4 linked regions of the Homo sapiens genome follow. The protein of the gene in region 2 purifies or fractionates together with the protein of the main gene of each other region. This does not show direct contact. Each region holds a gene or a part of one and is shown on either strand. Other genes may lie near its edges.

Region 1 (8,130 bases), on a different chromosome or scaffold from region 2:
AGATTTCACCATGTTGGCCAGGCTGGTCTTGAACTCCTGACCTCAGGTGGACCACCCACCTTGGCTTCCCAAAGTGCTGGGATTACAGGCGTGAGCCACCGTGCCCGGCCTCAGATTTTGCTTTTTAAATTCTAGTAGGATTTTCTTTTTCCGGACATTATTAAAGATTTTTAGAAAGTTTTCATATTTGTGGATGGTCATTTTAATGCTACTATAAGAATACAGGGAAGTAATGAATATTTTTTCTTTTTTCCTGAGAAGGAGTTTCACTCTGTCACCCAGGCTGGAGTGCAGTGGTGCAATCTCAGTCCACAGCAACCTCCATCTCCCGGATTCAAGTGATTCTCCTGCCTCAGCCTCCTGAGTAGCTGGGATTACAGGTGCACACCACCATGCCTGGCTAATTTTTGTATTTTTTTCAGTAGAGACAGGATTTCACTATGTTGGCCAGGCTGGTCTCGAACTCCTGACATAAAGTGATCTGCCTGCCTTGGCCTCCCAAAGTGCTGGGATTACAGGCATGAGCCACCACTCCCAGTCATGAATTTTTAACATCACTCTTTGAGTTATGTATATTAGAGAATAAAAAGAAGCATATGAGTAAAGCACCAAAAGGGGCCCACAAGAAGTCTTTCTTGACTCTTGAGGCTAGATTAGATGCCCAACCAGTATATATACACACACACATATAATATATATATATACACATATATACATGTATATATTATACGTATATACATATATATGTCTATATATACATATATGTATATATAATACATTTGTGTGTGTGTACACACATACTATTGCAACACTCATGACATGGTGGTGTTTTCATAATTAGCGTGTAGATAGTCAATATATGTGGGCAGAAACCCATGTCTGTCTTATTTACCGTTAGTATTTGCATTAGCACAGCACGTGTCTACATAGTATGTGCTTTACCGATACAAGTGAAGAATGATAATCAACAAAGCAAACAATCTTTGATAGTGAGATGAGAAGCTATAATAAAGCTTATCTGTCTGTTGCTCCTGATTGCCTTTTCTCTGTTCATCTAGAGTAAGAGTAAATAGAAGAGGCTTATTCAACAATATTCTGTATTTATAGAAAGACATTTTAGTAATACTCTTTCCTCTTTTAAAAATTACAATAACTATTGTTAATGACTAATCTTAATTTATATATACAACTTTTAAACAGGTCAAAGAAAGTATCTGTTCCATCAACTGTGATATCCAGAGTGATTGGAAGAGGAGGCTGTAATATCAATGCTATTCGGGAGTTTACTGGTGCACACATAGATATTGATAAACAGAAAGACAAGACTGGAGACCGGATAATCACTATAAGGCAAAACTTTGTCTCTTACATTTTCTTCCTTTATTTTATTGCACTATAGCTTAATGAAATACAGCCATATGAGTTTTCAGTGGAACTTTGTGTTACATAGTATACTTTTTAAAATGGGAATTTTATTAGTGTTTGAGAAGATAAATTTTATAGTTTTCTTTTTTCCTAGGTAATACACTTTTGTGAAGTGTTTCAGAGACTTTTATAGGAATTTGTATGCATGTGTAGCAAAGGTTTAAATAAATAATTTCTGTACATAAACTGTTTATATGACATTCTTAAAAATTTGTTCTGAGACTTTTAGGGAGCGCATTTCTAACATTTTAAGCAGTGGGTTTTTGTCTTTCTCAAATAACCTTTGAGATTTGTTATTCTGAGATTGTGTCTTTAGAATTTGAGTTCTTGGGCTGGGCACGGTGGCTCACGCCTGTAATCCCAGCACTTTGGGAGGCTGAGGCGGGCGGATCACCTGAGGTCAGGAGTTCGAGACCAGCCTCAACATGGGGAAACCCCGTCTCTACTAAAAATACAAAATTAGCCGGGCATAGTGGTGCATGCTTGTAATCTCAGCTACTCGGGAGGCTGAGGCAGGAGAATTGCTTGAACCTGGGAGGCAGAGGTTGCGGTGAGCCGAGATCGAGCCATTGGACTCCAGCCTGGGCAACAAGAGTGAAACTCCCTCAAAAAAAAAAAAAAAAAAAAGAATTTGAGTTCAGATTTGAATCTGAAGTGAAGATATAACTTATCTTGAATAACTCGTCGAATATGTCTATGCCTGAATATTCTTAAAATAAAAGTGATGTTCTAAGAAATCATAAGAATGTAGGAAGCTATATTTAATTACTTTAAAGTAAATTCATGTTCCTTTGAAAAAGAGTTTTATATTTTTTACATGGCAGATATAAGTTTGTATGAGGCAGATGCCCCTTTGCATTATATAGGAGAGCTAATAGTTACATCATACCTCAAAAATAAGAAAGCAAGTAGCCATCTCTATTTTATTCATCGTCCTCTCCTTCTGACTGGTTTTCCCCTGGGTATTTGGGTAGTCACAGCCTATCTTATCTAGAAAAGAGGGAACCAGATACCCTTTATTGGTAATTGCTCCCTTGAGTTTCCATAAATATCAAATATTTTCCTGAAGATCCAGCACTAAGGTTTTATATGGCTATTTTTGGCACTATCAGGATTCCTGCATCATTTTAAGACATCTTCCCAGAGGAGTTACAATAATTATCCTATTAATAGACAAACTACTAATGAATTTTTAGTAGACGGAGTCATCCCAGATACCAAGATTTAAAATAAAATACTGTTTTCTTACTCAGTTGTATTATTTTCCTTGTTTACTTCTATTATTTTTAGTGTTGATTAACTGTTTCAATATTTTTAGGATTAAATGTTTCAATAACATTGTGGATTACATAGGCTTTTATGTGCAGTGGTTTTTCTAACTGTAGTGTATTTTACAGTAGGAAAATGGTTTCTTAGTCTAAGGAAACAATAGTGAAATGTATTTTTGAAAAATAAGTCATTTACTATTCTTCTGAAAAATAAAAGTAGTAATTCAGGACAGTTTATTGCTTTGTTTGTAGAATACCTCAGGAATGGTAAGAAAATTGCTGCCCAGCTTTTGTTATCTGTCCTTTGTTTGTATGTGTGTATGTATATACACACAAAACTGTGTGTGTGTTTGTGTACATAAATACATATTAAAAACACTTTACATACTCAAAAGTAGGGAAAATTCTACCTAATTTTTTTTTCTCAATTTATAGGGGTGGCACTGAATCAACAAGACAAGCAACTCAATTGATTAATGCTTTGATCAAGGATCCAGACAAAGAAATTGATGAACTTATTCCAAAGAATCGTTTGAAAAGCTCCTCAGCAAATTCCAAAATAGGGTCATCAGCACCTACCACCACTGCTGCTAACACTTCCTTAATGGGAATTAAAATGACAACTGTAGCTCTGTCATCAACATCTCAAACTGCCACAGCACTCACTGTGCCTGCAATTTCTTCTGCATCCACTCACAAAACCATTAAGAACCCAGTGAATAATGTGAGGCCTGGTTTTCCAGTTTCTCTTCCATTAGCATATCCTCCTCCACAGTTTGCACATGCTTTGCTTGCTGCTCAGACTTTCCAGCAGATCCGTCCACCAAGGTTGCCCATGACCCACTTTGGAGGTACTTTTCCACCAGCTCAATCCACTTGGGGTCCGTTTCCTGTCAGGCCTTTGAGCCCTGCCAGAGCTACTAACTCGCCTAAGCCTCACATGGTGCCTCGCCATAGCAATCAGAATAGCAGTGGTTCTCAGGTGAATTCAGCAGGTTCTTTAACTTCAAGCCCAACAACTACAACCAGTTCATCAGCTTCAACGGTGCCTGGTACATCTACAAATGGCAGTCCAAGTTCACCTTCTGTCCGAAGGCAGCTTTTTGTCACAGTTGTGAAGACATCCAATGCCACCACAACAACAGTCACAACCACGGCAAGCAACAACAACACTGCACCCACAAATGCCACATATCCTATGCCTACTGCCAAAGAACACTATCCAGTATCATCCCCATCTTCCCCATCACCACCAGCCCAGCCAGGAGGGGTTTCTAGAAACAGCCCTTTGGATTGTGGATCAGCATCTCCAAATAAAGTGGCATCTTCCTCCGAACAGGAAGCAGGTAGTCCACCAGTAGTAGAAACAACAAACACTAGACCTCCAAACAGCAGCAGTTCTTCTGGGAGTTCATCAGCTCATTCTAATCAGCAACAACCTCCGGGATCTGTTTCTCAGGAACCAAGACCACCTCTTCAGCAGTCTCAGGTTCCTCCCCCGGAAGTTAGAATGACTGTTCCTCCTTTAGCAACAAGTTCTGCTCCAGTGGCGGTGCCTTCTACTGCCCCAGTGACTTACCCTATGCCTCAGACACCAATGGGATGCCCCCAGCCTACTCCTAAAATGGAAACCCCTGCTATTAGACCACCCCCTCATGGCACAACTGCCCCTCACAAGAATTCAGCTTCAGTGCAAAATTCATCTGTTGCAGTCCTCAGTGTCAATCACATTAAAAGACCTCACAGTGTTCCCTCTTCTGTCCAGCTACCTTCGACCTTAAGTACACAAAGTGCTTGTCAGAATTCAGTACATCCAGCAAATAAGCCTATTGCTCCCAATTTCAGTGCCCCCTTACCATTTGGGCCCTTTAGCACATTGTTTGAAAACAGCCCTACTTCTGCTCATGCCTTCTGGGGAGGATCTGTTGTTTCATCTCAGTCAACACCAGAATCTATGCTATCAGGAAAATCCTCATATTTGCCAAATTCAGATCCTTTACATCAGTCTGATACTTCCAAAGCTCCAGGTTTTAGACCACCATTACAGAGACCTGCTCCAAGTCCCTCAGGTGAGTTTATATTTTCTGAGATTCTGCAGCTGTTCATTTGCACAAGTGATGTGAAAATTCTTGGTCATTTTCTAATATTTTTATTCTCTGGACGATATAGACAAAGATTGTTGGATTTAGTTAACTCAGATGCTGTTGTTTGTGTTTAGTATGGTGTTATTTTTAAAAATCTTTTTAAAAGCTACCATAGATTTTTATTTAATTTTCCATAAATAAGTCTTCTGATCAGGCGGGGTTTTTTTGTTTGTTTGCTTTTTGAGACAGAGTCTCGCTCTGTCACCCAGGCTGGAGTGCAGTGGCATGATCTCAGCTCACCGCAACCTCTGCCTCCCAGATTCAAGTGATTCTCCTGCCTCAGCCTCCCGAGTAGCTGGGATTACAGACGTGCACCACCATGCCTGGCTGATTTTTGTATTTTTAGTAGAGATGGGGTTTCACCATGTTGACCAAGCTGGTCTCGAACTCTCAACCTCAGGTGATTCACCCACCTTGGCCTCCCAAAGTGCTAGGATTACAGGCGTGAGCCACAGTTCCTGGCCTAGGCGTGTTTTTCTCTCTCAGAAGTCTTTCATGTTTTAATTTAATAAGGTACTGTCACCAAAAGTTTACATTTATTACAAATACAAAATAACAGATTTAAAAAATTGGGTTTCATTTCGCATTATCTTTTTTATTTCTAAAATAATTTTAAAAATAGAGCTACACAGTCTGATATGGTAGCCAATAACCATGTGTACTTTTTAAATTTAAATTAATGAAAATTTTAAAAATAAAAAAATTAGCTTCTTAGGCTACCCATATTTAAGTGCTTAAAAAACACTTGTGGCTGGTAGCTACCATATTGGACAGCAAAGATCTAGAACATTTCTATTATCCAAAATTCTACTGGGCAACACTGATATATGTAGAAGATACAAAGATCTCCTGATTGTAAGCTATTGCTTTTTTAAAAAAAACTTTTTACTTTAAAATATTTTTAGATTTATAGAAGAATTCTATAATTCCTCAGCTTCCCTTCATGTGACCATCTTACATAACCATGATACATTTCGAAACTAAAAAAATTAATATTGGTGTAGTACTACTAACTAGACTACAGATTTTAGGCAGATTTCACAAGTTTTTCAAGTAATATCCTTTTTCTATTGTAGGATCTAATCCAGGATGCCAGTTTCCATTTAAAGCTGTTGGGTTTTAATATAAGCATTTCAAGTAATTAAAGATAGTCCACGTAAGAGATGGACACACTATGGTCTATGGGCCAAATTTGGCCTGCTGCCTGTTTTTACATTTCTTAAATGTTTAAAAAAAAATTTTTTTTTTTAAGAATAGGCTTGGCACGGTGGCTTGTGCCCGTAATCCCAGCACTTTGGGAGGCTGAGGTGGGTCGATTGCTTAAGCCCAGGAGTTCCAGACCAGCCTGGGCTTAAGGGGAGACCCCATCTCTACAAAAATATAAAAATTAGCTGGGCATGGTGGTGCATACCTGTAGTCCCAGCTACTTGGGGGGCTGAGGTGGAAGGATGACTTGAGCCCTAGAGGCAGATGTTACAGTGAGCTGAGATCACACCTCTGCATTCCAGCCTGGGTGGAGACCCTGTCTCAAAAAAAAAAAAAAAAATTTAAAAAGAATAAACATGCAACACAAAATATGAAATTTTAATTTCAGTGTTTGTAGAGAAAGCTTTACTGAAACACAGCAATGCCCATTCATTTGCATATTGTATAAGGCTACTTTTATGCTACAATGACAGAATTGAGTAGCTGGGACAGAGACCATGTGACCTGCAAAGCCTAAAATATTTGGTATTTGGCTCTTGGTTGCCAACTCGTTATCTGTGTTATTGGAAATATGACATTCCGGGACAAAAATTTCCAAGTTTAATGGGAACTCAATGTTATTTTTACCTATTTCTGTAACATGTAAATAAAATTTAATGAAGGTGGTCAGTAAATATTCTTTGCTAAAAGTCAACTGAAATATTTATGTGTACTATGAAAAATAATTTATTTTATATTAAAACAATAGAATCAATATAATTAGATTTTAGATCATTATGTGCCAGTGCGTAGGAAATGCTTTAAGTTTGATTTTTATAGTAGTTGGAATTTAATACTTTACCTTTCCAAAAATGTGATAATCTAGGTGTGGGATTCAGAAAGGCTAAAATTAAGCTTTAGAGAACAAAAAAATAAATTCCTATTTTTTGAAAAGGTATAGAAGAAAGACCTCTGTAAGAAAGGTGAGGTTTTTAGGGAGTGTATAGTTGATGAGAGCCAAAATTAGCATTGAAGTTTAACTTACAAGTCAATTACCTAATTCAGGTCATTTTGAGTTAAAGATACTCCTTTTATTACATAGGAAGTATGTCCTTTTATTTTCTCCTAAACCTCTCTCAGATCCTAATTTTCACTTCTCTCTACTTCTTCCTAATTCATTTTGTGTTCCATATTTTTCTTCCTTTGTTTAACTTTTCTTATGTAAATAATTTGATTATTTGTATTTTAGACTCAGATCTGTTTTTATAGTTTGTATTTTGAAAAGTTATTTAAGTCACATAAAGATCTAAGGACAGAATAAGCAGCATAGTAAATACTTGGTATTTCCACATTTATTAATATATTCTCTGCTTGTTAACATCTTTTCAAACTCTCTCCCTCACTCCCCTCCCTTCCTCTCTCCCCTTTTCCTTCTTCCCTCCTTTTTTTTCCTCTCTTTTGCTGCTTCCTTTTCTTCCCCCTCTCTTGTCTTGTCTTACCTGTCTCTCCCCTTCTTCATCCTTCTTTCCTCCTTTTCCCCCTTTCTATCCTATCTCTATTTTCTTTTCTTCCCCATCTTTTGTCAAATCATGAGAAGATAACTTTCAAACATGATACTTTACCCCTAAATACTTTGATATGGATCTTCACAATGTTTGCCTTCACAGCTATGCCACTATTACTGCACCCAATAAAATGAGGATGAATTTGATAATAACACCCAACATAAAATGCCATTTTCCCAAATATATTCTTTCTGACTATGTGTGTCTCTTTTCCTTGCCATTTGATCCAAGACTCAATCAAGATTCACACATTACTTTTGGTTGTTATGTGTCTTTGGTCTCCCTCTGTCTAAAGTATTCTACTGCCTTCCTCTGTAATTCTTGACATTGACTCTGTGGGCAAGTTTAATTCAGTGATTATGTCAATCCATGATTAGATTCAGATCAAATATTTCAGGAAGGAGCATCATATAGGTGATGTTTTGAACCTCACACTGCATTTTATCAATGACAGATTGGCTGGATGTGGTGGCTCACACTTGTAATCCCAACACTTTGGGAGACTGAGACAAGAGGCTCATTTGAGGCCAGAAATTTAAGACC
Region 2 (4,636 bases):
GAGCCAGTTTGGGGGATCGAGTATGTCTCGCTGCATTTTTTCTGCATCGACGTAGCTGACTTCCCTTCAAAGCTGGAGGAGACATAATTTTCCTGGGATAAATCTGTCACTGGGGTGGAAGAATAGGTTTGAAAATGTTAAGCTTTCCAAAAGCCCGGTCGGGAGAGCTGCCGTAAACTGCGGCCCCAGCTCCCCAGATCGGAGCAGATTCAACCGACATGGGAGAGAGCGGGCTTTCTGGGGTGGGGGTGGGGGCGGCCTGCCTGGTGGCCGAGCTCCCCTACTGGGCTGGCAGAGCAGGCCTACCATCCCTTTGTCCCTCCAAATTAGCTGCTTGCTGCCCTTCTCAGCTTCTAAGGAGAGGAGACGAATGCCTGGCTCTTCCAGGGTTTGCTCTGTCAGAGCAAATGGCCCAGCATCCTTGGATTTCGGGGAGGGAAGCAGAAGTCAAGCTGGTGTGGGGGAATTCATCTTCAGACATCAGAGGAAGCCTGATGTCCACTTCTCTCCGTGGCCATATAAGAGGTTTCCCGCCTTCCCTAGTCCCTGCCCCACAGCAGGATAGGAGCTGGAGGCCCTAAGAACAGAGGCTCAGGGTGTTCAGCCAGGACAGGAGTAGTCCGGGGAGAATAGCAGAGAGGTCTCAATGGCTTCTTTACCGGCCCCAGGAAGATGCAGAGGCACCTACTTCATCCCTGCCTGCCGCATCTGGCCAGAATCCCCAGAGTGGCATCCTCTCACTCCTCCAGTCAGCATCCTTCCTGGCCCTTAAAAATAGCTGCCTCTTGCTGTGGAAGGCAGAGCGGGAGAGGGATGAGCAGACTGGCTAGGTCCAGGAGGAGGTGGGCAGGCAGGGAGGTGACAGCTGCATTTCCCTGCTGACTTGGGGCCAAACCGGGGGCTTGGCCACTGGTCCCAGCACTGAGCCTGTGTGAAGCGGGGAACATTACAAGCTGAGCAGTGATGACTGACTTGCTGACCTCGATGCCCCAAACCCCTGCCATGGGTTTCAGGGACAGAGGAGGTGCCATATGTCAATGCAGGCTAAGTCCAAGAACTGCTTTCTCAGGGAGGGGAGAGGCTGGGCTCTGCGGCAGGGACGGCAGGAGAGCCAGCGCCTTCTGTCCCTTCCTAAACAGTGAAGTCACCCTCACTACTTTCTTGAGGACAGCCTATAAGAGATGATTGCACAGAGAGGTGAACAGGACAGGCTTCTGTGGCAAGTTGGCTGTCTAAGGGGAGGGGAATGGGAAAGGAGGCATAGAATTCAGCCCTGCCTCCTGGCCTCCAGTCTAAGAGGCCAGCAGGCAGGATTCTCCCTCCTCCTCACCCACAGAAGCTATTTGGTCACTGGGCTGAGAAGCCCAGCTGTGATGAGGCTGAAAGAGAAAAGACAATTGAGTTGTTGATTTCTAGACACTGGGCTGGGGACCCTGGTGACTGGGAAGCCACAGGGAAGAGGCAGGATCCTCCTGGCAGGTGTCTGAGGTTCTGGGAAAGCAGCCTGCTTTGGGCTGTGTGTTTAGGGAGAGCTGTCCCCATCCCTAGCACCTTCTCAGCAGAGCAGAGCCTGGTGATGTTGAGGGGCTGGGGGTGGCCAAAGCTGTGAGTTAGAACCCAAAGTGGCAGAAACAGGAGACAATGCTTTCATCTTTGGCCTTGGGACTGGAGGTCACCCCTTCACCCAAGTGTTTGTAATGACCTGTGAGACACGCACACATAATATTTGGAGTTGGAAGGATCCTCGGAGATCTTTTGATTAGCTATGGAACTCTGATTCAATTAAATTTTACTTAGATCCTCAATCTAAGAGACATCACTGTCTGGTTTAAAAAGAGGGTGGAAGGAATGGCACTTCAGCCTTTTCAATTTGATAGTCCCAAGACCTCTCTTGAGAACCCAGTTTGAAAACCATAATCCCGTCCACTGCCCTCTGTAAACCCAGGGGTGGGGCCCGAGGTCCAGAAAAGCCCTTTCTCTGGGTTGCACAGCATGTTAGTAGCTGGGCTGGAGCTGGAGTCCATGTTTTGGGTTCCTGGTCTTTGGAGCAGTTGCTGCTGGGCTGTGACAAGTGTGTGGGCCAGCTGGGGTCAGGGATCTGCCAATAGCCATCCTGCTACCTTCTCTGACAGCAAAGCTCATCGTGGAGACGGACACCTTTGGAAGCAGAGTTCGAGTCCGAGGAGCCGAGACGGGCCTCTACATCTGCATGAACAAGAAGGGGAAGCTGATCGCCAAGGTGAGGCCCCAGCAGGCAGGTGGGGTCCGCGGGACCTAGGGAGTGGCTTGGGCTGGCTGGACTCCTCCAAGACAGTCCTGGGCTCTGATCCCAACAAGGTAGGCAGAAGGCCACAGGGCCATCTTGGGGTTACCTCACGATTGGGTGCAGGAGTGAGGGAGAAGGAAGCTGTTTGAGAGATGAAAACTATAAAAGGCGAAGGAGGAAGAATGAAGGCTAGGGAAGGGGCTGGGGGGTGGTGGTTGGTAAATTCCATATATCTTTTTAACAAATCGCCAAATTGCTTTGCTATTATGTCCAATTACATGGTACCAGCATTTGGAATGTTCAGTAAGCCGCAGGCCCAGCCCCTCGGCCGAGCTCTGAAATGGCTCCATTAGTCACGGCTCCTCTCCAGCCTCGAGCTCCCCACTTCCTGGGCTTCTGGGGCTGGGGTCTTAGCATCTTCTCCCAGGCCTCCCCTCCCCCATAGGGTGGCTGCCCTGGGGCCAGGGAACCGAAGTCCTGGGGGGGTGAGAGGGGCAGGTGGGGAGACGGGTGGCCAGACTGGTGGGCAGGAGGCCAGAGCAGGCCAGGCTCTGGGCCCCTCTCTCTGTCTTTCTGCGTTGGGGCCCAGCCCCTCCGTAGACAACCATGTGTCACTGCTGCCTGGGAGGACAGGAAGTTGCCGGGTGGGCTGCGAGTTGTGAGGGATTAGAGAGCGGGTGCCCAGGCAGGGGGTGGGGCTGCGGCTCCTGCCCACCTCGCCATCTGCTGGGGTGCCCACCTGCTGTCTGGGGCCGCTCGCCCTCTGCCTCTGCTGGGGGGGCTCTGTAACGTGGTGTCTGGCTCCCCTACCTGCAGAGCAACGGCAAAGGCAAGGACTGCGTCTTCACGGAGATTGTGCTGGAGAACAACTACACAGCGCTGCAGAATGCCAAGTACGAGGGCTGGTACATGGCCTTCACCCGCAAGGGCCGGCCCCGCAAGGGCTCCAAGACGCGGCAGCACCAGCGTGAGGTCCACTTCATGAAGCGGCTGCCCCGGGGCCACCACACCACCGAGCAGAGCCTGCGCTTCGAGTTCCTCAACTACCCGCCCTTCACGCGCAGCCTGCGCGGCAGCCAGAGGACTTGGGCCCCCGAGCCCCGATAGGTGCTGCCTGGCCCTCCCCACAATGCCAGACCGCAGAGAGGCTCATCCTGTAGGGCACCCAAAACTCAAGCAAGATGAGCTGTGCGCTGCTCTGCAGGCTGGGGAGGTGCTGGGGGAGCCCTGGGTTCCGGTTGTTGATATTGTTTGCTGTTGGGTTTTTGCTGTTTTTTTTTTTTTTTTTTTTTTTAAAACAAAAGAGAGGCTCTATTTTTGTATTCCACTTGGCTGTGGTGTCTGTCTTCTTAACTCTCAGAAAGCTCCATTAGTGGCCTAGACTGGGATTCCGGCTGGGGGTTTGCGGGGGTGGGGGGCTTTCTCTAGCCTGTGCTGCTGAGGCCCCAGTACCTCCAGGGCCAGTTGGCTGGGCAGCCAGGGACTCCACTGCACCCCCAGGTGGGGCAGGGAGGAAAGGACTGTGACATAGGGCAGTCCTCTTAGAAGTGGGTATCAGACTGGTGGCTATTAAATGATTGAAATATTTATTTAACTTGCATATTAAAAATGTGTGCTGGAGAGTGAGTCCTGCCGGGGTCAGCCCCTCCCTCCAACCTTGCCCCAGCTGGTGGGCGGCTGGGAGACGCAGATGACCAGGTGCCAGCTCTGACCACAGCCTCCCTCCAGCCTAAAGACACCTGCCTGTCAACCATCCCCATCACTGTCACTTGAGGGGTTTTCCTGCAAGGACAGAAGCAGGGAAAGGGGCAAGAAGAGGCTCTTAGCTAGTCCTTGGAGCTCTCAGATGTGTACCTCCTAGCACTTTACAGAGGTCATTGCTAACACTTCCCCAGGCCACCTCAGGGCCAGAAATAATGGATGTGCTAGGGCTAGAGCTGTAATCATGGATTTAATCCTCTTAAAAAGTGCTTCTCTGAGTGCCTAGGTCCATGTGGGAGACAGGTTGGAGATTCCAGAACTTGCTCTTTCTGAGACTCAGGCTCCAGAAAATGAAAGAAAAGAGCAGCTGCCAGGGTCCAAGGTGGGGGCATATTGGAGGGGGACCACCAAGACTGGTGTTGACAATGGTGATGTGGGACAAGTGTTAACCTTGGGTGATATGGTGAGATAGCTGTGGGCAGAAAGCACTGAGCTGAGGTGCGGTGAGGAGCCTGGGGAACTGTCTTCCAGGAAGAGGCTGCCCACCTCGGAGGATGGGCCTGGCGGGAGAGGAGCTGGGCACCGGATGGCACCAGAAGGGAAGCTCATAGGCCTAGCGCAGAACTAAAGGCAGTCATAGCCTTGGGGAGAAGCAGGAGGCCGTATGTG
Region 3 (7,000 bases), on a different chromosome or scaffold from region 2:
ATTTTATCTTTTTTGTTGTCTTATTAGCTATAATTCTTAACGTCTTTTTAGTGATTGCTTTGGGGTTTATAGTATATATCTTTTATTATAGTTTACCCTCAAGTAATTTACTACTTCGCATACAATGTAAGAACCTTACAAGAGTATTTTCCATTTCTCCCCTCCTTTGTGCTTTTTGTTGTATACTTCATATGTGTTAGAGATTCTAGAATACATTTTTATTATATTTGCTTTAAACAATTATTTTTAAAGATGTTTAAATAAGAAAAATAAGGGGTTTTGTTTTTTTGTTTGTTTTTAGAGACAGTATCTCCCTCTGTCACCCATGCTGGAGTGCAGTGGCACGATCATGGCTCACTGCAGCCTCAAACTCCCATGCTCAAGCAATCCTCCTGCCTCAGCCTCCCAAGTTTCGAAGACTACAGGAGTGTGCCACCATGCCTGGCAAATTTTTTTAAAGATGGGAGTCTCACTATGTTGCCCAGGCTGGTCTTGATCCTCCCGCCTAGACCTCCCCAAGTGTTGGGATTACAGGCATGAGCCACCATGCCTGGCCATAAAAAGAAGTTTTTAAATATTTACCTACGTAGTTACTGTTTCGGTTGCTCTTTATTTCTTTGGGTACATCCAGATTTTCATTTTATGTTATCTTTGCTATTGCATGAAAGACTAATATTTCTGATAGCTTACATTTGCTGCTGGTGAATTATTTCAGCTTTTATATGCCTAAAGTCTTTATTTCACATTTTGTTTTGAGTGGGTGTAGGGTTATAGATTGTCAGGGTTTTATTTTTAGGCATTCAAATAAAAAATATTGCTACACTGTCTTCTGGCTTTTCATTGTTTCTGATAAGTCTGCTGTTCTTCTTATCAAAAGTTTCATGTGTCTGTTTTTGCTCTCTTTTTTCCTTATAGTATCTTATTTTTGTGTGTGTGGTTATTTTTTACTGAGAGCTGCTTATTTCCTTTGAAAATTGTGAAAATTTTTGGAGATGTATGGTAATGGTTTCTCCCTTGAGAAAGCATTTATTGGCTTCTGCCTAGGGCATTATCACTTTGGAACTTCTTTAAATTCTCAGCCTGAGATGTTTTGTTTTGACCACCCAGATGATTTGGACTCTGTGTACATTCAAAGGCCAGTTTGAAAATGTTCAGGCATAGACAAAAGTTTTATATTTACATTTTCTGAAAACTTAAGAAAATTTTCTTTTACTCCTTTCTCACCAAAGAAAAGTCTTGGGAAAGTATTGTATGGATTACTGTTTCCTGCTCCTCACAGAAACAACACATACACCCAAAACTTGCCCTTTCTCTCTTTATTGTTTCATTTCTTGGACATTTGTAATTCGTTACTGGTGACCTAAGACCTCAGTGCTAGCCTGCCATACTTTTCCTCGGGTTCTAATTTACATGTGCCTTCTGGTTCCTTCTGGGGAAATCTGTGTAGAGTGGAGGAGCTTTGGGTCGGTCAGGGTGGCACTTGGCTACCTTATTCTATGCAAAAGAATGAATTCCAGACTAAAGTATGTTCATCTGTTGATTCACACTGTTTTTACTTTGTTTTGTTTTTTTACTTTTAAGGAAGTGGGAAAACTCTTGCCTTTGCCATCCCAATGATTCATGCGGTGTTGCAGTGGCAGAAGAGGAATGCTGCCCCTCCTCCAAGTAACACCGAAGCACCACCTGGAGAGACCAGAACTGAGGCCGGAGCTGAGACTAGATCACCAGGCAAGGCTGAAGCTGAGTCTGATGCATTGCCTGACGATACTGTAATTGAGAGTGAAGCACTGCCCAGTGATATTGCAGCCGAGGCCAGAGCCAAGACTGGAGGCACTGTCTCAGACCAGGCGTTGCTCTTTGGTGACGATGATGCTGGTGAAGGGCCTTCTTCCCTGATCAGGGAGAAACCTGTTCCCAAACAGAATGAGAATGAGGAGGAAAATCTTGATAAAGAGCAGACTGGAAATCTAAAACAGGAGTTGGATGACAAAAGCGCCACCTGTAAGGCATATCCAAAGCGTCCTCTGCTTGGACTGGTTCTGACTCCCACTCGAGAGCTGGCCGTCCAGGTCAAACAGCACATTGATGCTGTGGCCAGGTTTACAGGTGAGGTTTAGTTCCATTTAATAAATATTTTCTAGGTAAATCCCAAATGCTCGTTGGTAAAGATGAATGAGCTGTGGCTCCTGCCCTCTAGGGTAAGCCACTCTCATCTATAAGCCAGACAATTAAGCCCTACAGAAAATTGATATAGTGACATTTTTTCAGTTCCCTCAAGGATAATACATGGTTGGTGCCATTGTGGATGCATAGGAAATTTATTGGATACAGTAGATGCTCAGGGCAGGGATTAGCAAACTGTCTGGTTTTATAAATAAAGTTTTGCCGGAACACACCCACACCCATTTGGTTTTATATTGTCTGTGGTTGGTTTTGTACTACAAAGGTGAAGTTGAGTAGAGTTAATAGTTGTGACAGAGACCATCTGGCCTATGAGGTCAGTAATGTTCACTAGTGACCCTTTCAGAAAAAGTTGGCTGATCCCTGCTCTAAGCTATTAGGATTTAATTCTCTCAGGGAATTCACTCTGGGAAGGGCTTCACTCTGGGAATCTTAATTTTATAATGAAAGCAGCAATTAATTACCAAGTTGTTACTATTGCTAAGCCCTTTACCCACATGATACTATGAGAATTTCTGCACCAGAGACGAAAACAACAGGGCATTAGTGGACCTTTCAGAATAATTCTAACTGAGGGAATGGAAGGGCTTCCTAGGAGAGGTGTAGCACAGCTGCAGGTCATATTCCTCCCAGCATTATGGTGCCCCAGTGCTCCGTTTTCCCAGAGCTTTGGAGGTAAGCATACCTGGGTTCAAATTCAGCCCCTTTGGTGTGGTTGGAGGGGAGGGAGTAGAAAAGAAATGAGGCTGAAGAAGTAGAGCTCAGATCACAGAAGACTTGGTAAGCCCTCTAGGAGTGGCGTCAACAGTCTGGCCAGGCCTGCTCTTTTAGCAATGCTCTAGGGCATTACACTGTGCTGATGTCTGTCTCTGCTAATCTGGGGTGCCTGTGTCAGCCATGTAAGAAAATGATCACCCAGATTGAATAAGTGTCCCTTATGTTTTCTGTCCCATAGGAATTAAAACTGCTATTTTGGTTGGTGGAATGTCCACGCAGAAACAGCAGAGGATGCTGAACCGTCGTCCTGAGATTGTGGTTGCTACTCCAGGCCGGCTGTGGGAATTAATTAAAGAAAAGCATTATCATTTGAGGAACCTTCGGCAGCTCAGGTAATAGATGGCACTTCTCTTTTCCCCCTCACTGCCTTTTCTGAAATGAGCCTTAGGTGACATGGTGTGGGCAATGCCTTCTTCTCATCGCAGAATGCTATGGTGTGGTATCATCCAGACCCTGGCCTTTAGAAAGCCAAGAGTGCATGAGGGAGATTAGTTGAGGGCCTGATGGTGGTGGTGGTAGTGGGGTGTGTACGTGTGTGTGTGTGTGTGTTTAGGATGAGTGTAGGGTGTGCTATAGATGATTCCTCTTAACCCGCTGCTGACCAATGATATGGGTCTCTCTGGATCTGCAGGTGCCTGGTAGTGGATGAGGCTGACCGGATGGTTGAGAAAGGCCATTTTGCTGAGCTCTCACAGCTGCTAGAGATGCTCAATGACTCCCAATACAACCCAAAGAGACAAACGCTTGTTTTTTCTGCCACACTCACCCTGGTGCATCAGGCTCCTGCTCGAATCCTTCATAAGAAGCACACCAAGAAAATGGATAAAACAGCCAAACTTGACCTCCTTATGCAGAAAATTGGCATGAGGGGCAAGCCCAAGGTCATTGACCTCACAAGGAATGAGGCCACGGTGGAGACGCTAACAGAGACCAAGATCCATTGTGAGACTGATGAGAAAGACTTCTACTTGTACTACTTCCTGATGCAGTATCCAGGCCGCAGCTTAGTGTTTGCCAACAGTATCTCCTGCATCAAACGCCTCTCTGGGCTCCTCAAAGTCCTTGATATCATGCCCTTGACCCTGCATGCCTGTATGCACCAGAAGCAGAGGCTCAGAAACCTGGAGCAGTTTGCCCGTCTGGAAGAGTAAGTTAGGACTGTCCCCAGAGGCTTAACCTCTAGTTAGTTACTGGGGTAAAAGGGGTCAGGATGGTGGGGAAATGGTAGAAAAGCCACCTTCTGTCATAGGGGCCTTGTCTCAGTAGTAGGTAGCCTTTTTTTTTTTTTGCACAGCATTTGGCAAGGTTACTGTCATTTAGTGAATTTGGTTGCAGTTAAATGCCATACAGAAACTTCAATACTAATGAATATAGGTGACAATACATAATATTGAATGTATAGACAATAGATTAGGTCCTGTGCTGGCACTTTAGATTCAGAATCACATTCAGTTACTCTCCTAACATCCTTAAGAGGAAGCAGAATAGATTCATGGTTAAGAGCACAGATCCTGGAACCAGAATGCCTGAAATCAAATCCTAGTTCTGTCACTCCTTAGGTGGTCAAGTTATTTAATTTCTCTGTACTTTAATTTTCTCATTATTTGGATAATAATAGAACCCATTCTAGGGTTGTTATGAAGATTGATTGTAAATTCATGCGTGTAAAGTGTTTAGAACAGTCTCTAGCACATAGTATGTATATATTGCTAAATGTTAGCTTTAATAATTTCTAGTCCCTTTACTACTTATTACCATTATCACTATTCTCATTTATAGATGGAAAAATGAGGTCTAGAAAAGCTGATCAGTGTGCCCAAGGTTTCTCTGCCTGGAAGTGGTAGAGCTGGGCCTCAGACAAGCCTGTCGGACCTCAGAGCCCATGCTATTTCTTATTCCTGATGTCTTTGTCCATCTGCCTTTGGACCAGACTGATGCTCAGGGAATGGGGTGCAGATTGTCAAGATGAGGGCCTGGAAAGTTGAGGCAGACTACAAAGTGTCTTTTGCCAGTGTTTTGTCAGGTCATGGGGTAATTAGTTTCTAGAACAAGTGTTTGATTTACTGGTTTTTAAAAATTGGTAAGTAGTATCAGTGGTTTACTGAGATTAGCTTAGAACAAGGCTTGGCAAACTATAGGCCTCGTGCCAAATCTTGCTTGCTGCCCTTTTTTTTTCTAAGATGGGGTCTTGCTATGTTGCCCAGGTTAGACTTGAACTCACGGGCTCAAGCAATCCCACCTTAGCCTCCTAAGTAGCTAGGACTACCAGTGCATGCCATCACACCTGGCTGCTGCCTGTTTTTTTAGTAGACGTTTTACTGGAACACAGCAAGACCCATTTATGTATTGTCAATATCCTCTTTTGCGGCAGAGTTGAATAGTTGCCATAGAGACTGTGTGGTTCACAAAGCTGGAAATGCTCTCTGGCTCTTTACAGAAAAAGTTTGCTGACCTTGATCCAGAGCAGTAGTTTAATGTTTTACAAACTAGGATTTGCATTGCATTTCCCGGCCTCAGCTCAGACATGCAGGGAGTGAGGACCCTGAAGGGCCAGAGTCTTATGTTTTGAAGCACCTCAAGTACTTTTGACTTTCCATGAACCACACATTGAGAAACATCATCCAACACATTTATCAAGTGCTTACCATGAACCAGATGTTGTTCTCTGTGGTGGTAATAACAGCAGTGAGTAATGCAAAGTCCTTGCTCTCATGAAGCTTACATTCTAGTAGAGGGAGATAATAAATTGCAAAGTAAGCCCACAGTCTGCCAAGTGATCCTAAGAAGTAAGTCGAGCAGGGGTTGGAGAAAAGAGATTGGGTATGTGTGGTCAGTCTCTGATGAAGTGAGAATTGAGCAGAGAGCTGAAGAAAGTAATGAAGTGAGTCATATGGACATCTGAGGCAAGACCCTTTAAGGCCTTAAGGAGTAGCAAGTGCAAAGGCTTGGAGGTGAGAGCATGCTTGGTTTGTTTGGGGAAGAGCAAGGAAGTCTGTGTGCCACTGGGAGGAAGTAAATGAGAGGGTGCTAGGAGAGGAGTCACTGACCCAGAATATGTATGGCCTCATTTAACTCACTGAAGGGAGTCTTTATCATTGCAGAGTATGGCATGTTGGTTGGGGTCAATGAGTCCCAAATTTGGATCCAGACTCCACAGCTGAATAGCCATGTAGATAGCTTGGGAAGTTAATCTCTCCGAGCCTCAGTTTTTCTGTAAAAGGGTATACAAGTGATATCTTACAGAGTATTGGTAAGGACTGTAATGTTTAGGATGCTCAGCAGTTGGTAAGAATTTGATTAAAGATAGCTGTTAGTTATTATTAATAAGCTTTCTCTCTCTACCCCAGCTGTGTTCTCTTGGCAACAGATGTGGCAGCTCGGGGTCTGGATATTCCTAAAGTCCAGCATGTCATCCATTACCAGGTAGGGGCATCTGAAAATTTATAGGCATCTGCCTGCACTGAATGGGGAATTTTTAAGGCAAAGGTTGGGGGAGGGAGGAGGAATTGTTGGTTCCAAGGCTCTTGCATCAGAGAATACCACTGGCATCGAGTGCCCACTACTCCCACTTTTGCAACACTGCTGAGATTTGGTCTCCAGAAAACCTTGCTTTGTCTCATGTCAAGTAGCCCTTCTCTCCAAGCTACTTGATATTGTCAGGTTAGAGTCTTAGTTTTTTCTGTGAAATGGGCATAAGTTAAGCATGTAATTGGTTACCCTGATGTAGAGAAGTATTAATAGAAGAGTGTGGTAGTTTAGATCTCTCTGGGCTCAAATCCCAGCTGTGTAACCTTGAACAAGTCATGTAATCTCTCTGTATCTCAGTTTTCTCATGTATTAAATGGCAGTGAGTACCTGCTTCTTAGGGTTCTTACTGAGGTAAAATAAGTTACTAAGTATAAAGAGCTTAAGAAGCCACCTGGCACATTGCAAGCACTTACTCATGTTAACTGCCATTGATAGTAGCAGTAATATTAGTGTGTGCATCTAGTGAATATCAGCATAAAATTTTGGTTAGGAGTATGGGCACCGGAGCCAGACT
Region 4 (4,003 bases), on a different chromosome or scaffold from region 2:
TTATATTAATTGTAACATTAACTCTAAGTTTTTTAATAGAAAAGAGACAAAATGTGCCTTGGGGCTGTGCCACCCTGAAATTCAAACAACAGTGCTTTTGTGTTCCTATTCAGGCATAATCTCCTTCTCTATGGTCCCAAGGCACAAGTGTTAAGTAAATAAAGGGACTAATAAGACTATTGTTTACATAATTATAACCCTGTCAGAAATAGGGACCTCTGTTGAAATATTTGTTGAGTGAATTACACACGTGATGACCGAATCTGTGGGAAAAGTTGCATAAATGAATGGGAAAATAGAGCCACCTCATATCCTTTGGTGACGTGGTTTTACAGGAATATAGAAACAGCATTCTCCTATGAAGCAGAAGAGCCTGAAAAATTTAGACAAAAGAAATGCATAAACCTGTGAGGAGCCTTAGAAAAGAGAGATCATTTTAGGGCTGGTGATCTTTATGTTTCTCAAAGATGAAATTGAGGTACCTAGTTCATAATCTCTCATGTGTACGTCTGAAAAGCAGATGGATGTGTGTGTTAAGAGGTTTATAAAAACCTCTTTAAAAACATTGGTATGATTTATATTCCTAAACTGGTTACTTACAATTGCTTCTCTCAGTAGGAATACTGCTCTGTCAGATTCCTTGCAAGTTTTCAGCATGCTTGTAGAGTGCACAAGCAAATGCCTAGGAAGATTTTCTAACATATTTTGTTGATAGCCCATTAGCTAACATTTTAAAACACAACTTCAAAGTGTTTATAATATTTGAAATTTAGTAAAATTAGCATATCTGTTTTGGTTTGGATACATTATTCTAATTATTGTTGGACAACCTAGTTCATGATTTTATTTGTCCAAAAATGGCTTGTTTGGTTTTAAAAAAATTAATGTGTTATGAGATCTTGATGTTATTTTTTAAAAAACCCAAAAAAGAAATTACTTTTCATTTAAAGAGAATCTGCTTCCTGCTTAAGTGGCTAATATTTTAATTAAGTCGGGAGTGAAGTTTTTCTGAGTGTCTCCTGATAAACTCCCTCTTTTATGTTGATGGTAATTAAACAGATCCCTGTGGACACCGTGGGCTCTGTGCGAGGCCCATGCTAATTGTCAGACATGAGACACTGACCAGTTGGTTTGCTCTTGAATAGTCCGCAGCGTGCTGTTAGCGCGGCAGTTTTATTTTTATGTATTGTGAGCTGTTGTCAGGGCTAACTGGGTGCCATTGTGGCTGAAGATGTTGCGCAAATTGAGGCAGATGGCTCAGATTCAGACACGTGTCATATAGAAAGGGGCAAGGGGATTGGCCCTGCAAAGTGGGGTCACAGCAGGTCACAGACCTGCTCTACACTTGTTAGTGTTTTCAAAAGCTCATGTGCAGCAACTTTGTTTTTCTCCAGTCATCCCTGCAATCAAACCCCCTCCCCCAAAAAGTGTGTGGAACATGCTTCATGTGGAAAAGGGAGGCTTGGGAGGTTCCTGTCCTCTTCCTTCATGACCCTGAGGCTCAACTGTGCATGCAGAATGAATTAGCAGGATTGACAGAAGTTCGTTATGCCTGCAACGGCTTTTCAGTCAATTGCAGTGCTTAAAAGGCTAGTTTTGCTTTTAGTTCCGTGTAATCAGTAGGTTCTTCATGTCTTGGAATTTAGAGTTAGAGCTTTAGACCTCCAGTTTCCTCTGGAAATGTTTTTGTTTACACTCTACAGAAAGAAAGATCTAATGTCCTAAACATTTCAAAACAAAGAAAAAGGGAAGCGTGAGGTTGCACTTAGCTGTCACGTGATTTTGCTTCATGTCATCATTAACATTAGAGATTTAATTTGAATATTGTTACATGAGTGAATTCATTGAAACTTAGTAAGAATTTTATAATGTACGTAAAATTATCTAACTTATTACATAATCATTTTCAGATATGAGGAGTTAAATTTTGAAGCTCTTTGAGAAAGGTACCTTTTCTTAACATGTTTTAAAAATAAAAATACAATGGCTTATTTAAAATGTCCCTATGCATGGTGAAATGTTAAATACCAAGTGGATGAATGGTTCTCAAATATATTGTAATGGAGAATTATTCACATGCATCTATTGTTTAAACTAATAAGTAAAATAGACTTCCTTTTTCTGTTCTGTTTTAAATGTGCACTAAAATTACCTGCTTGTGGTTAGCATGGGCTGGACAGTTTATTGATTTTTCAGAAGAATGCTTGGCTTTGGGTTTTTGGCAATAGGGAGCCTGCAGCAAATTATTTCATTTGACAAAAAAGAGTTATTTTAATCCTATTTGAATGTATGCTATCTCCTTTACCCTCCCCATCTTATGATAAAAGGTCTCTCTTTTTTCTCTTCCAGGTTTGCAGCTAAAACTGTGCACAGTGGGTCATTGATGCTAGTCACAGTGGAACTGAAGGAAGGCTCTACAGCCCAGCTTATCATAAACACTGAGAAAACTGTGATTGGCTCTGTTCTGCTGCGGGAACTGAAGCCTGTCCTGTCTCAGGGGTAACCTGCTTACATCTGGACTTTAGAATCTGGCACACAACAAAAGTGCCTGGCATCCACTACTGCTGCCTTTCATTTATAATAATAGCCCTTCCATCTGGCAGTGGGGGTAGAATACACTCTTGACATTCTTGTCTCCTGCTTTAGAATGCTAGTGTGTATCTATCATGTATGCAATACTTTCCCCCTTTTTGCTTTGCTAACCAAAGAGCATATATTTTACTGTCAGTTGTCTCAACTCTTGAATCCATGTGGCGTTTTCTCTGTCCTGCTGCTTCTTTTGGCCTCCTCGTTTTCCTTCTCTTTTTCGACAATGGTAGACATGAATGAGATATTTAAAGTTCATTGGAAATCTTCTTCCCTACAGCAGTAAGCAAAAATTAGCAAAGAGATAGTCTAAATGGCCTCTCAGCTTGGTATGTGAAAATGAGATCACATACTTTTTAAATCCAAATACAAAAGCATAGTCTCTGCAAGATTTTGTTCTTTGAATTTCTTGATATTGTAATTGATTATTGATAACTGTCATCATGAAATTATCTCTCAATAATAAGATAAATAAACTAGCATATGAATCATATTTGTCTTTGCATTTTTAATGAGAAACTATTAATAATCCTGAAGTTCATATGCTAAAGTTTTCTTATTTTAAAGCAAGTATTTTGAGTGTTACATTATGCAGAGAAGCAATGTGGTTTAGTTAGCGAAAGAAAAACCACTTCCAAACCAAGTAAATTTTCTACTTATAGTTTACTCCAAGGAAAAAAAATTGGTGTATTTAATAACAAAAACAAAAATCTTCATATTGCAAAATAAACATCTTCTAGGTAGTTTTGATCTATTAGTAGATATCTGATTATGTGGCCTGCTGAATAAATTCTTTGAATCTCATTTTTCCTTATGCCCAACTTTGGAAACTAACTAGCATAAACTTATAGAAATGTTTAAAACTAGTTATATGATCAACCTATTAGCATCTTTTCCTAGAGTATTTGTTTTATTTGCTACCTTAAGTTACTGTTTTCAAGGTTGTTCTATAATCAGAGAACTTTTCTAATACTTTCGTACCTTTTTAAAACCAGCTGAAATTTTACTTCCTTTTTGAAGCAAGGTAATGGACTTTCAGGTAGTATAAGCTACTCAGTTCTTTTTGTATAGAGCCACATACATAATGATTTTTAAAAAGTAAAAAGGAAGTGACTGTACATTGCTTGAAGCATTATAGGAAGGCTGAAAAGAAAAGAATGGAATTTTCTTGGAACATACATATTGAAAAGAACAAAACAGAGTCGAAAAATTATTTAAATTTTCAAGCTGGTGGGATGACAAGAGTAAACAAAATTGTTAAATTTTCCTGCTCCAGAAAGAAATATAGCCCTGAATCTCCGGGAAGAGAATGTACAGAAGTGCAATGTACAGAAGCCACGTGTACATTTTGTGCCAATTCCGTACCATGTGTACATTCTGTACCATTCTGTACCAATGTATGGAAGCCACGAGTTCC

What was found.
Region 1: the proteins of FGF8 (region 2) and ANKRD17 purify together in Homo sapiens (co-immunoprecipitation; 3 studies listed by BioGRID and IntAct, with this or other methods). This does not show direct contact.
Region 3: the proteins of FGF8 (region 2) and DDX24 purify together in Homo sapiens (affinity purification with mass spectrometry; 2 studies listed by BioGRID and IntAct, with this or other methods). This does not show direct contact.
Region 4: the proteins of FGF8 (region 2) and AP3B1 purify together in Homo sapiens (affinity purification with mass spectrometry; 2 studies listed by BioGRID and IntAct, with this or other methods). This does not show direct contact.

Annotation. Positions count from the first base shown.
Region 1 is NC_000004.12:73,087,299-73,095,428, reverse strand, and holds part of ANKRD17 (ankyrin repeat domain-containing protein 17), read left to right. Parts: intron 1-1,200; coding exon 1,201-1,350; intron 1,351-3,128; coding exon 3,129-4,762; intron 4,763-8,130.
Region 2 is NC_000010.11:101,769,066-101,773,701, reverse strand, and holds the end of FGF8 (fibroblast growth factor 8 isoform F precursor), read left to right. Parts: intron 1-2,125; exon of another isoform or gene 2,126-2,132; coding exon 2,133-2,239; intron 2,240-3,005; exon of another isoform or gene 3,006-3,082; coding exon 3,083-3,373; 3' UTR 3,374-3,593; downstream 3,594-4,636. UniProt on the Homo sapiens protein: Plays an important role in the regulation of embryonic development, cell proliferation, cell differentiation and cell migration. Required for normal brain, eye, ear and limb development during embryogenesis.
Region 3 is NC_000014.9:94,057,203-94,064,202, reverse strand, and holds part of DDX24 (ATP-dependent RNA helicase DDX24), read left to right. Parts: intron 1-1,581; coding exon 1,582-2,106; intron 2,107-3,136; coding exon 3,137-3,290; intron 3,291-3,589; coding exon 3,590-4,105; intron 4,106-6,305; coding exon 6,306-6,381; intron 6,382-7,000. UniProt on the Homo sapiens protein: ATP-dependent RNA helicase that plays a role in various aspects of RNA metabolism including pre-mRNA splicing and is thereby involved in different biological processes such as cell cycle regulation or innate immunity.
Region 4 is NC_000005.10:78,001,402-78,005,404, reverse strand, and holds the end of AP3B1 (AP-3 complex subunit beta-1), read left to right. Parts: intron 1-2,349; coding exon 2,350-2,503; 3' UTR 2,504-3,079; downstream 3,080-4,003. UniProt on the Homo sapiens protein: Subunit of non-clathrin- and clathrin-associated adaptor protein complex 3 (AP-3) that plays a role in protein sorting in the late-Golgi/trans-Golgi network (TGN) and/or endosomes.